Linked DNA regions of Homo sapiens. The protein of the gene in region 3 purifies or fractionates together with the protein of the main gene of each other region. This does not show direct contact. Each region holds a gene or a part of one and is shown on either strand. Other genes may lie near its edges.

Region 1 (3,500 bases), on a different chromosome or scaffold from region 3:
AGTCAGGAACTCTGACTTCGGTACATCTTGAGGGGAGGTGGGAGGGAAGGGGACAAGTGGGGTGAACATATCTCTAGTTGAATGTTGTTGGCTGGGTCATAGGACCTCAGCTCTGAGAGGGAGAATGGGATCCAGCAGGCTCCTAGGGCATGAGGGAGCCGGGGACTGGCACTGCCAGGGTGGAGCTCCTGGCAGCCATCCCTTCAGAGGCCTAACACCTAAGTGATGCTCTTTTTCTCCCTGTGGCCCAGGCTGAGTTGGCTGTCATTCTTAAATTTGTGCTGGACCATGAGGACGGGCTAAACCTTAATGAGGACCTAGAGAACTTCCTACAGAAAGGTAAGTAGGTACACACTCCTGAGAATCCCCTCATCTCTGAAATGGGGAATACTAGGATCCTGAGTTGTCAAGTATGGTGGGGGTTTGTTTCTGTCCCCAACACAAGGCAGAGTTGATGCTCAGGAAAAGTGTGTGTAATGGAGTAGGTCGATTTCTGGGCCATGTTGTATCATCTCAGTTCCTATGGAGCTCCTCCTTGCTGCCTGGCAGCAGTTATGTAGGATATTTACAAGTGATCATACCTACTTTTGTTTTTTATTTTTTAAACAATCATTACTCTAGGCTTAGAAGCTGAGAATACAGTCTTTTTATTTTTATTTTTATTTTTTTTTGAGACAGAGTCTCTCTCTGTCGCCCAGGCTGGAGTGTAGTGGTGCGATCTCAGCTCACTGCAATCTCCACTTCCCGTGTTCAAGCAATTCTCCTGCTTAGCCTCCCGAGTAGCTGGGATTACAGGCGCATGCCACCACACCTGGCTAATTTTTGTATTTTTTGTAGAGACGGGGTTTCACCATGTTGATTAGGCTGGTCTCGAACTCCTGACATCAGGTGATCCACCTGCCTCGGCCTCCCAAAGTGTTAGGAATACAGGCATGAGCCACTGCGCCCGGCCCACAGTCTTTTAAAAAATGTTTTTCCCGTCATGTAGTGCATGTTCTAGGTGGAAAGGCAGATACATAAACCAGGAAATAATGATAAGGAATCTAAGTACGGAATATATCAATGGCCTCGGCTGGTACTACAGTAGAAAGAGTGATCGTTCTGCTGGTCTTCTGATGAAGAGGTCAGCTGGTGGATGATAGGAATGTAAGAAGGAGGTCTAGGCGAGTTCTAGCCGTTGAGTTTGATGTTCCTTGTATTCAGGTTCCTCATGAGACCTTCAGGTGGAGATGTTAGAAATGTGAGTCCAGAATTCAGGAGCAGGCTCTGGACCAGAAGATAGGTTTGCAAGTCAGCATTGGATGGCCACTGAAGCCGTGGGCACTATGGGCAGAGCCAAGAGGCCCCATCAGATCTCTGGGAGCTTAGAGGGTGGGTAGAGGAGGGAGGAGCAGATGAGGAGACTTAAGAATGGGTGATTAGAGGTAGGAGAGTCCTACAAAAGGGGTCACGGAAACCACGGAAAGAGAAGGGTTTTGAGGAGGAGGGCATTTTGGAGGTGCAAGGCTTCAGGGGGGATGAATTCCAAATGGTGGCCAATGGCTCTGATAGGAAAGGTTGTTGGGGGCTGCAAGGAGATCCTGCTCAGGGCTCCCCAAGCCGTCTCTGCAGTGTGGACTCGAGGAAAAAGCTTGAGCACTTGGTGCAGTTTCTGAGCCAGAGGACACCGTCACTCCACTGTGCTCTGAGTAATGATGCTCTGTAGAAATGGAAGCCCTGCACTTCATTTTGGTTAGAGACACGGAACTCTGGATAACCCAGGCACCAGGTTTCAGGTTCTGCCCAGTGCCTTCCTTGGTAGTTTACATATAAGTATCCATGGATATACTCCCACTAAGGCGAGTTCTCAAATTGCATAAAGGTGCAAATCTTTACACCTTCTTACTAACCTTTGTTGATTTATTTTGTCTATTTCTTACCCCCAGCTCCTGTGCCTTCTACCTGTTCTAGCACATTCCCTGAAGAGCTCTCCCCACCTAGCCACCAGGCCAAGAGGGAGATTCGCTTCCTAGAGCTACAGAAGGTTGCCTCCTCTTCCAGTGGGAACAAGTATGTTCTGGGCCTCTCCTCCTGGGATAGGGCCTCAGCATCCATCCATTCCTCACATTCCTAACTTCTAGAGTTAAGATGTTAACCAGCCTCTGGGAGTGCTTAGAGTATCCGGTAGATCTGGGATCTCCTCACCTCACCCAGTATTAACTGGGGGAAGTGGTTGGGATTTGTCATGTGCAGAAGGCCTCCCTCAAAAGCTGTTCCCTGTTTATGGAATACCCTTCTTCCTCGGAGACTACAATGAAGTCTCTTCTCTTAGCACATCTCTGCAGAGCCAAGGAGAATATATCACTTTTTTTTTTTCTGACAAAGAAATTAAGGCAGTGAGAAGAAAAGTTTTCCCAAGATCATGTCATGAGGCTTGAGGTAGCACTGCAAACAACCCAGGTGCACAGGCCTCCCAGCTGCTAGTGCGCACTTCCATAGACCCCGCTCCCTTACTGCTGCCTGTTGCTGATTGCTTCAGATCTTAGGCGCTTACCAATGCATATGGGCCTTCTCCCTCCTCAGCTTTCTCTCAGGTTCTCCAGCTTCTCCCATGGGTGATATCCTGCAGACCCCACAGTTCCAGATGAGACGGCTGAAGAAGCAGCTTGCTGATGAGAGAAGTAATAGGGATGAGCTGGAGCTGGAGCTAGCTGAGAACCGCAAGCTCCTCACCGAGAAGGGTAGGTGGCTGGCACACTGGCAGATGTGTGAATAGACTTGCCGGAAGGATGTCCCCTGGCCTCCCATGTTGTCCCCTCTGCTGGCCCCTGGAGCTGAGAGCTCAGCCCTGGGCCTGTGGTCAGGCTGACCTCCTGGAAGCTAGGTTCTGTCTTTGTCCCCATCTTCTCTTTCCCTTAGATTGGATACCATATTCCTCCTCTTCCCTATGCCGTCTCCTCCCTTCCCCTTGTGCACATAGTTCTGTGCACATAGTTCCGCTCATGCACATAGTTCTGATTCTCCTCTCCTCCTCCCTCCACTCTGGGCAGATGCACAGATAGCCATGATGCAGCAGCGCATTGACCGCCTAGCCCTGCTGAATGAGAAGCAGGCGGCCAGCCCACTGGAGCCCAAGGAGCTTGAGGAGCTGCGTGACAAGAATGAGAGGTACAGCTCTCCCTGCATTCCTTCCCAGGCCCCAGCCCCTCCCCTCACCCAGCCAGGAACCCATACTCTCTTCTCACTGCTTCCCTCCCTCGCAGCCTTACCATGCGGCTGCATGAAACCCTGAAGCAGTGCCAGGACCTGAAGACAGAGAAGAGCCAGATGGATCGCAAAATCAACCAGCTTTCGGAGGAGAATGGAGACCTTTCCTTTAAGGTGGGTGTTAAGGTGGTGTGTGCATGGAGGCCCCTCAGGGCTGAGGTGGTCTGGAAGGCTCCCCAAGAGAGGGTTGAGAAGAATGTCCCAGCACCTGTCTTATGCTTCAGTCTCTCCAGAGACCTGCATATTTTGCCCCT
Region 2 (3,500 bases), on a different chromosome or scaffold from region 3:
CCAAATTGTACTATTGCCTGTCAAAATGCTTTGCCTGCCATGTATTCTCATTATTAGAATTCAAATACTGTACCTCCAAATTATGTCACTGAATCCTAACTTGCCTTCAGAGATGCAGTTTTATAAAAGGTATTGATGTGTAGCAAATTACCCTCAACTACAGCAGTCATAAACTTAGTTATAACTTTTTTAAAGTTTGCATTACTCTCGAGTGTCCTGAATTCACTTCAGGTAATGTGTTTAAATTACATATATGGCAGAATTATTTTGGACTGGTAATAAGTTAGTAAGAGCACAGACTCTGGAGTCACACTGCTCCGCAGCTATATGACCTCGGCAAGCTGTGTAACTCTGTGCCAATTTTCTCACCTGTTAAAAGTTTTAATAATAAGGCCAGGCGCAGTGGCTCATGCCTGTAATCCCAGCACTTTGGGAGGCCGAGGCAGGCGGATCACGAGGTCAGGAGATTGAGACCATCCTGGCTAACACGGTGAAACCCCGTCTCTACTAAAAATACAAAAAATTAGCTGGGCGTGGTGGCACGTGCCTGTAGTTGGGCTGAGGCAGGAGAGAGGCGTGAACCTGGGAGGCAGGACTTGAAGTAAGCCGAGATGGCGCCACTGCACTCCAGCCCAGGCCGTCTCAAAAAAAATAAATAAATAAAAAATAAAGGTTTAATAATAGTACCTATTGTCTAATGTTAGATTAAATGACTAAAAGACATTATTGAGTGGCACATAGTAGGCACTCAGTATATATTAGCTATTAGATTTTAGATGTTTTTATTTTATATCTGGTTCTCTTTCAGAATTCATAATGCACTGAAAGGAATTCCAGATGACCGAGATGGGCTGTTTGACACAATCCAGCGCTCTAAGAATCACTATCAAAAAAGAGCATACCAGTGTATAAAATGTATGGTAGCTCTATTTAGTAACTGTCCTGTTGCTTACCAAATCCTGCAGGTGAGGATTTTTTTCTTATAATTTTGTAGAAATCTTAATCAGAATTAAGGATTCTGTTTTAAAAGAAGAGAATCATGAGAACTTGGGGTTGTCATTTTAAGTTAACTTTGAAGTATTCCAAATCCTCTTATCTATATGGTTTTATTTTCTTTTGCAGGGCAATGGAGATCTTAAAAGAAAGTGGACCTGGGCAGTGGAATGGCTTGGAGATGAACTTGAAAGAAGACCATATACTGGCAATCCTCAGTACACTTACAACAATTGGTCTCCCCCAGTGCAAAGCAATGAAACGTCCAATGGTTATTTCTTGGAGAGATCACATAGTGCTAGGATGACACTTGCAAAAGCTTGTGAACTCTGTCCAGAGGAGGTAAAAAAAGCCACCAGTGTGCAGCAGATAGAAATGGAAGAGAGCAAAGTAATTCTTTATTTTATAGGCCAGTGTTTATGTATTAATGATATTATTAAAAGATTATGTTGAAGTTTTGGGTTTTGAAAAATGTTTATTCGGCTGGGCATGGTGGCTCACGCCTGTAATCCCAACACTTTGGGAGGCCGAGGCAGGCGGATCACCTGAGGTCAGGAGTTCAAGACCAGCCTGGCCAACAAGGTGAAATCCCATCTCCACTAAAAATAGAAAAATTAGTCGGGCGTGGTGGCAGGCGCCTGTAATCTCAGCTACTTGGGAGGCTGAGGCTGGAGAATGACTTGAACCCAGGAGGCACAGATTGCAGTGAGCGGAGATCGTGCCAGTGGGCTCCAGCTTGGGTGACAAGAGTGAAACTCCATCTCAAAAAAAGAAAAGAAAAGAATGTTTATTCTATGTCATTTTAAGCTAATGAAGGGAGCTTTCTTTTGGAGAAATTTCTGTGAAATTGCCTGAAATGTAGTAGTTCTGAGAGAATGCAAATCAGGTTTTTTGTTTTGTTTTTTTTTTTTTTGTTTTTTCCCCAAGTTCTTTATCTGCAGTAAAAGAAAAGTTGCTAATGGGTCAGTTTTGTAGATTTTTAAAATTTATTTCAAATAGAAAAAGTTAAAAGTAAACTTGAGTTTGCCTACGTAATTTTTTATCTTGAAATATTCAAAATTAGGAGCCAGATGACCAAGATGCTCCAGATGAACATGAGTCGCCTCCACCTGAAGATGCCCCATTGTACCCCCATTCACCTGGATCTCAGTATCAACAGGTAAACAGGAGTCAGTTTATGCTTTTATCCCCTAGAACTGGGTTTTATGCTTAATTTTAGAGGATGGCTCAATTGTTTGTTGTGACTACAAAGTAAGAAGTAGGATTATCTAGACTAGCTTTGGGAGCATGATCCAGAAGAGGGATGGTTTGGAGTGGGGGTCATGGTGTAACATGTTTGAACTTAACCACTGTAGGGTTTTCCTTGTCAAGAAGGTGTCCTTCTTGTGCTAGTAGTTAATAAAACTGTATGAGAATTTATATCAACATAAAATGATCATTGTTTAGTGCAAAGGATTGTGGTGACATTTCCGGTGAGGTAAAATCTTCACCTGGATTCCAAAAACATTATTAAGATATGGCAATGAAGTAAGAAGTCCTTGGTTACTTAGCCACAGGTTTCAGTGATGGTAAAAATCACTGGAAAAAAAAGGATTTGGGTAGATTTCCATAGGTGATTAAAGTAAATAAACTAGTAAATAGCAAAAGAAATGAGATGAAGAAACATTCTAAATGATAACTTTTTCTTTCTGAAACCAAAATGTGACTAAATCAGCTCTTGTGAGGCAGTGGTACTCAAACTTGCACAGGCGTGAGTCTCCCTGGAAGGGTTGCTCCAGCAGAGAGCTAGATGCTACCCTAAAGTGTCTTATTTCATAGGTCTTCAAGGGGCTGGAAAATGTACATTTCTAGCAAGTTCCCAAGTGATGCTGCTGGTGGTCCAGGAACCATACTTGGAGAAACATTTCAGGCATTCTTTCTTACATTTCACTGTGTACATAGAAGCAAACTGAATAGTTAGGAAGTACACATTCAGCGTACTTATTTTCATCTATAGAAAGTAAAGCCTGGCCAGGCGCGGTAGCTCATGCCTGTAATCCCAACACTTTGGAAGGCTGAGGCAGGTGGATCACCTGAGGTCAGGAGTTTGAGACCAGCCTGACCAACATGGAGAAGCCCTGTCTCTACTAAAAATACAAAATTAGCCGGGTATGGTGGTGGCGCATGCCTGTAATCCCAGCTACTCAGGAGGCTGAGGCAAGAGAATCTCTTGAACCCAGGAGGCAGAGGTGGTGGTGAGTCGAGATAGCACCATTGCACTCCAGCCTGGGCAACAAGAGCGAAACTCCCATCTCAAAAAAAAAAAAAAAAAAGTTAAGCCTAAAATCTTGGCTTGGCTGATGGAGCATGTACAGAAAAATGAGAGCACTGTAGGGTTCAGACATTTTAAAAGGTTAAGGAACCAAATCCACAAGGAAGGTTAACTTCCTTTGACCCTGAGAAAGCTCTTATGTTAATCATGCCTGGTTACTTTATCATCTTGAACATTGTTCTGTTTTTAATCAGCA
Region 3 (2,624 bases):
AAATCAAAATAAATTATAAGGCTACTGTTTTAACATATATAAATGGCTAACTGTAAGAGCTAGTAAGGTAATTGGCTTAAGTTCTCATCAACAAGGTTGTAAAATGAAGCATTTAAAAAGCTGGGTTGATGAAGTATAACCATTCAAGTATCAACAAAATGATGATATGAATGTATAATATAAAAGTTTACACTTTCCTCACATGGAACTTTTATGATTTGGCATATTAAAAGCATAATTTTCTATAAATGCTATAAATCTAACATTAAGAATCAGATTTGGAATATAAATCCACTACTCATGACAATTACTATTCTTTAAAATGATAATTTTCCTAAATAAGAAAATTTCTAATGGAACTTATTTTTTCTGGACTTAAGAAACTCTATTAAACCTAAATTGTTATTAATTCAAAGCAGTCATAACATTGTGAATTCCAAAGTTCCCACCCACCAAATAAGTGATTCCTTGGAGAAAAAATATGTTCCTTTTTTTTTTCCCGCAAATACAAATTTTAAATAGCTAATAAGCTCACATTAAACTTCATGAGGCTTGTTTCCATTAGTGGTTGGCAAATCTCCTAATTCTTCACAAATGTCAAAGATGACTTGGAAAGAACTTTTTTGAAATTTGAAAAATCAGTATTTCCTTCTAGTATCTCTGAAAAACTAGCTCGGAAAGCAGAATGACGTACAGATTGAAACCAGGAGTACTGAGAGCGCCCACCAGTAGAGTTTAGGCGCTGAACATAAACATGCTTAGTAAATCCAATTACATTGCTTGTGGAAACAGAATGGGTAATCTGTTAGAACAGAAACAAGCAATTGAGAAGATGACATTAATGTCTTGAAGGTATTTTAGCTGCTTCTTACATATGCTGTCTATTAAAAGTGACATAACCATAAATAAATTAATTTTCTAAAATTTTCTATAAAATTCATTTATTTTCATTTGAAAGATGAAAATGTTTACAATAGTTGCTACAGGTGGCTTCGAGAAAGCTATAATCTAATTTTCACAAATTAATGTTTATCTGCATTTGTCAATTTTAATTGGCCAAACTACTTTGCATATATTCATTTTATCAACTAAATGCAGCTTCTCTCCCATTGGTTAAGATTAATGTTGATGAAAAACCTGTATAAATACACTAATAGATTTAGCCATAACTCTTTGATGTGTTAACTGAAGACTTTAAGCAACTTTAAAATATATATTTAATGAGTATTATTTATGTGTCTTACCTGCGGAAATTTTATAAATAAAAAGAAATCACTTATAAAACTCAAGAGCACTCACAATGTGCCAGGTACTGTTCTAAGCACTTTACATATAATAACTCGCTTAATCCTTATAACTACTTAAGACTCACTTTACAGACAACGAAATTGAAACAGATTGTTAATAACTTGCCAAAACACATACAGCTAGTAAATAGCAGAGCAAGGATTTGAACACTAGGGTTCCAGAGTCCATGCTCTTAATCACCACCCAAATTGCCCCTCAGTATATAACATCATCTGCAAAAATGCAGTTGAGAGAATAAGAAACTTGCTACAGGACACACAGCTAAGAAATGACAGTCACTTGCTTTTCTTAACTTCAGTAGGTTAATAATTTTATAAAGAACAGATATTTCACTCAAATACTTAGTAATAGTAGTATTAAATATCTAATAATAATTCTGAAACTGTTGGAAATTTGGATTGTTCAGGAAACACTTTAAATATACATACATATATATACAATATACATGAATTTAGAACTCGTATCATCCTCTGAAATACAGTTTCAGAGATTATATTCTACTCATCACAAAAATAGTAAAAGGAATAAAACTCGGTCTCTGCTATGTCATTGGAACCGATCTGTATAAACAGAATCATAGCTATTTACATTAGTAAAGTGACAGGCCAGATTGAAACGCGTTTCTTTTCTCAGAGATTTTAGAACATATTTCAATCCCAGTAAAATTTCCTATCAAATAAACTACACATTAAGTATGTCTCTAGTTCATTCATAGTAGGGTTTTCTCAGTTGCCTTTACCCAATAAAGAGGTTAGAGGTTTGGATATAAATATTTAAAAAATGACGTATGATAGGATGCCAAGGTTTAAAGTGCACTAGGGGAGAACTCCTCTCCCCTAGCATCATGCTTTCCATGCTGATTCTTCAGTGCTAGTGTACAGAGCTGTGCTGTCCTTCCAGGAGCCACTAGCCACTTGTGGCTATGAAACCCCTGAAACACAGCCAGTCTGAAATGCAGCCAGCTTTGTAAGTATAAGGTGCACCCCACATTTTTAAGACTTAGTACATAAGAAAGAATGAAAATATCTCACTGATAATTTTACATTGATTCGCATTCAAATGATAATATTTTAGCATACTGGGTTAAATAAAATTATTAAAATTTTTTTAAAATGGAAGAAATATTTCCAATTTTTAGAAGTTAACAAATTCCATAACAACTTCATAAATAAGTCATTTACCCCATTAAATCAAAATAACTTACTGCTAATGATGATGTGCTAGAAAGACGACTCATTACATGCTTATCATTGCTGGAAGGACTTCTTCCCTCCACTGAGCCGTGGGATGTCATAAGAGCCCTTCGAAGAGCTCTT
Region 4 (3,500 bases), on a different chromosome or scaffold from region 3:
CTGGGTGAAGGTCCACACTTTAAAGATTTTACTGTCATTCCACCTCCCCTCCTTGGCTATGTCAGGCATGTTTCTGGCAAGGTGTGAACTGTGTGAGAAATGACAACTGCTTATTTAGTTATCAAGAGAAGGCATGGAGCCACTTTTCAGTTCTTGGACAGAACATACAATACTCACTGTCCTTAATTCTTATATTTAATTAATCCTTATTTTAACTTCTTAGCCACTCAGTATTCATTTAAAATTAGATTTTAACTTACCTAATTTTATTTGTACAGCATGTGTCAGTGATCAAGATATTTATTCTTGTCTGTGTATTTTTAGAATTCTAGAATTTTGCTTAAAGACCAAGTTCTAGAATTCTGTTCCAGTTTGTGAAAAATCTTCTTTTTTTTTTTTGAGATGGAGTCTTGCTCTGTCACCCCGGGTGGAGTACAGTGGCGCGATCTCCACTCACTGCAACCTCCGCCTCCTGGGCTCAAGCGATTCTCCTGCCTCAGCCTCTCAAGTAGCTGGGATGACAGGCGCCCAACACCTGGCTAATTTTTGTGTTTTTAGTAGGGACAGGGTTTCACCATGTTGGCTGCCTGGTTTCAAACTCCTGAACTCAAGTGATCCTCCCACCCTGGCCTCCCAAAGGCCTGGAATTACAGGTGTGATTCACCACGCTCAGCCCCAGTTTGTGTAATTCTAAGAATGAGATTTTGATGTGGTGTTTGTTCAGCAAGTTTTCCTGACCTTTTTCAGTTGACTCGGGAAACTTGTTGAGACAAAGGCTAGGATTCAATATCCACATATCAAACAAATATAATACACATAGCCTAGGTTTAATAAAGGAATTCATTTCTTACTTGCATATATTTGAATGAAACTCTTGTCTGCATAAATTACATCAAAAAAAGATGCATAATCAGAATTCTTTTGGTCTAGCCTGTTCCTATCCTGACGCTTTAGGAAGTGGTAGGGGAAGAAGTCCTAGTTTGCTATAAATTAATAAGAAAACAGATTATAGATTTTTGTTGATAGTAACCTCTCTAGCCTTCCATGCTGTCCCTGTGGGGAACTCATTCAGCTACTTTTAATGTTACTTGCTCATTTGTTGTGCTTTATTTATGCTTCTAAGTTTATTCCAGTATTGCAGTTGATCTATAAGGTGGGCAGAGTGTTGTTTTACCAAGGAACTGAGTGTCAGTGGTTAGGTTAGAATAGCAATTCTCAAATTCTGGTCCTAGACTCCTTTACACTCTTAAATTCCTAAGGAACACAAAAGGCTTCTGTGTATGTAGGTTATATCTACCAGTTACAGGTATTACAAACTAAAACTGAAAAGTTCTTCAAATATTTAATTTAAAAATAAAAATAAACTTACACTATGATACATAACATTATTAAATAACCATATTTTCAAAAATAGAAGAGCTAAGCGTTTTTGCAAACATCTTCACTATTATATGACTTAATAGAAGATAGATCCTCACATTTGCTTATGCATTTGATCTGCAGCATCATCACACATCATTTAGCTTCTGAAAAACTCCCCTGTACAGTTGTGAGAAAATGAGAATGAAAAAGGCTAGTATCCTCTTAGTATTATTTTGAAAATAGTTTTGACCCCCTAAAATAGTTTAGATTCCCTAAAGAGACCTTGGGAATGAATTTGAGGACTGCTGGCCTAGGGATTTCTAAACTAGATTTAGGCATTTGTGAGACATTTCTCAAGCTGTTTGACCATCGTTCATGTATGTCTTACAGGTGCTGAGAATGCTTGAGAATCACTTAAAGGCAACTGAAGACATCTGTGGGCATGTTAATGTTCTTGATATTTTAACAATTTGAGATTTTTCCTTTTTTTTTTTAAATGTAATACTTGCCAAGGTAAATATCAGTTGAGATTGATTTCAATTGGGAGTCCATTAAGTTTATAGATTATTTGTGACACTTGACATCTTTATGGTGTTGAATCATTCCATTCAAGAAATATATTGAGATTTAAGCACTTGAGTGCCAGATATTTTTCTGGATGCTAGAAATATATTTGTGAACAAATAAGTAATATGATTTGCCTCTCCATTTAGTTGGTTAATTTAATTCTATAACAGTAAAATATTATTTTCTTCATTTTAATCTTTAGGATTTGGCTTTTTCCCATGTATCACAGAATTTTTGTTGCTGTTAATGTAATCATTCCTCCCCCTCCTTTTTTTTTGGTAAATTGTAAAATTTTGTCTTTTTTGTCTCCTTTTCTCCTTCCTTTCTGTTGAGAGATGGAATCTCACTCTGTCACCCAGGCTAGAGTGCAATGGTGTGATCATCGCTCCCTGTAACCTTGAACTCATGGACTCAAGCAGTCCTCCCTCCTCAGCCTCCCCAGTAGCTAGGACTGCAGGCATACACCACTGTACTCAGCTAATTTTTAAAAATTTTTTGTAGAGATGGGGTCTCGCTTTGTTACCTAGGCTGGTCTTCAGCTCCTGGCCTCAAGTGATCCTCCCATCTCAGCCTCTCAAAGTGTTGGGATTACAGGTGTGAGCCACTGTGCCTGGCCTGGGTTGTCTTTTTCTTTCTTTCTTTCTTTCTTTCTTTTTTTTTTGAGACCGGGTCTTACTCTGTTGGCCAGGCTGGAGTGCAGTGGCGTGATATTGGCTCACTGCAACCTCTGCCTCCTGGATTCAAGCGATTCTCATGCCTCAGCCTCCCAAGTGGCTGGGACTACAGTGCCACCATGCCCAGCTAATTTTTGTATTTTTAGTAGAGATGCGGTTTCACCATGTTGGCCAGGCTGGTCTCGAAATCCTCACCTCAGGTGATCCATCCGTCTTGGCTTCCCAAAGTGCTGGGATCATAGGTGTGAGCCACCGCACCCAGCCTGGGTTGTATTTTTATTGTTGGGTTGTAAGAGGTCTTGATATAGTCTGGATACTAGATCCTTATCAGATATATGATTTGCAGATACTTTCTCTGATTTCTGTAGTTTGTTTTTTCCACTGTCTTTTAAAGTTTCTTTTTCACAAAAGTTTTAAATTTTGTTGAAGTCCAGTTTATTTTTGTTGTTGTTGCTTGCATTTTGGTGTTGTATCTGAGATAATCTGTTGCCAAATCCAGGGTCGTGAAGATTTACCTGTATGTTTTCTTAAGAGTTTTATTGCTGGCCGGGCACAGTGGCTCATGCCTGTAATCCCAGCACTTTGGGAGGCCGAGGTGGGTGGATCACCTGAGGTCAGGAGTTCGAGACCAGCCTGGCCAACATGGCAAAACCTACTACTAAAAATACAAAAATTAGTCGGGTGTGGTAGCACGCGCCTGTAGTCCCAGCTACTCGGGAGGCTGAGGCAGGAGAATTGCTTGAACCTGGAAGGCGGAGGTTGCAGTGAGCCAAGATTGCACCACTGCACGTCAGCCTGGGTGACAGAGTGAGACTCCATCTCTAAAAATAAAAAAAAAACAAAACTTTTATTGCCTTATCTCTTGCATTTTGGTCTTTGTTCCAGTTTGAATTAATT

Evidence for each region. Proteins that work in one complex are often made in the same cells at the same time.
Region 1: the proteins of ECT2 (region 3) and NUMA1 purify together in Homo sapiens (affinity purification with mass spectrometry, with the first as the bait; 2 studies listed by BioGRID). This does not show direct contact.
Region 2: the proteins of ECT2 (region 3) and USP9X purify together in Homo sapiens (affinity purification with mass spectrometry, with the first as the bait; 2 studies listed by BioGRID). This does not show direct contact.
Region 4: the proteins of ECT2 (region 3) and EIF5B purify together in Homo sapiens (affinity purification with western blotting; 2 studies listed by BioGRID, with this or other methods). This does not show direct contact.

The regions. Positions count from the first base shown.
Region 1 is NC_000011.10:72,018,043-72,021,542, reverse strand, and holds part of NUMA1 (nuclear mitotic apparatus protein 1), read left to right. Parts: intron 1-251; coding exon 252-339; intron 340-623; exon of another isoform or gene 624-1,217; intron 1,218-1,925; coding exon 1,926-2,049; intron 2,050-2,533; exon of another isoform or gene 2,534-2,562; coding exon 2,563-2,720; intron 2,721-3,029; coding exon 3,030-3,147; intron 3,148-3,242; coding exon 3,243-3,360; exon of another isoform or gene 3,361-3,500. UniProt on the Homo sapiens protein: Microtubule (MT)-binding protein that plays a role in the formation and maintenance of the spindle poles and the alignement and the segregation of chromosomes during mitotic cell division.
Region 2 is NC_000023.11:41,228,445-41,231,944, forward strand, and holds part of USP9X (ubiquitin carboxyl-terminal hydrolase 9X), read left to right. Parts: intron 1-808; coding exon 809-965; intron 966-1,122; coding exon 1,123-1,335; coding exon of another isoform or gene 1,336-1,383; intron 1,384-2,056; coding exon 2,057-2,152; intron 2,153-3,500.
Region 3 is NC_000003.12:172,816,726-172,819,349, reverse strand, and holds part of ECT2 (protein ECT2), read right to left. Parts: coding exon 2,513-2,624; intron 803-2,512; coding exon of another isoform or gene 581-802; exon of another isoform or gene 536-580; intron 1-535. UniProt on the Homo sapiens protein: Guanine nucleotide exchange factor (GEF) that catalyzes the exchange of GDP for GTP. Promotes guanine nucleotide exchange on the Rho family members of small GTPases, like RHOA, RHOC, RAC1 and CDC42.
Region 4 is NC_000002.12:99,340,389-99,343,888, forward strand, and holds part of EIF5B (eukaryotic translation initiation factor 5B), read left to right. Parts: intron 1-3,500. UniProt on the Homo sapiens protein: Plays a role in translation initiation.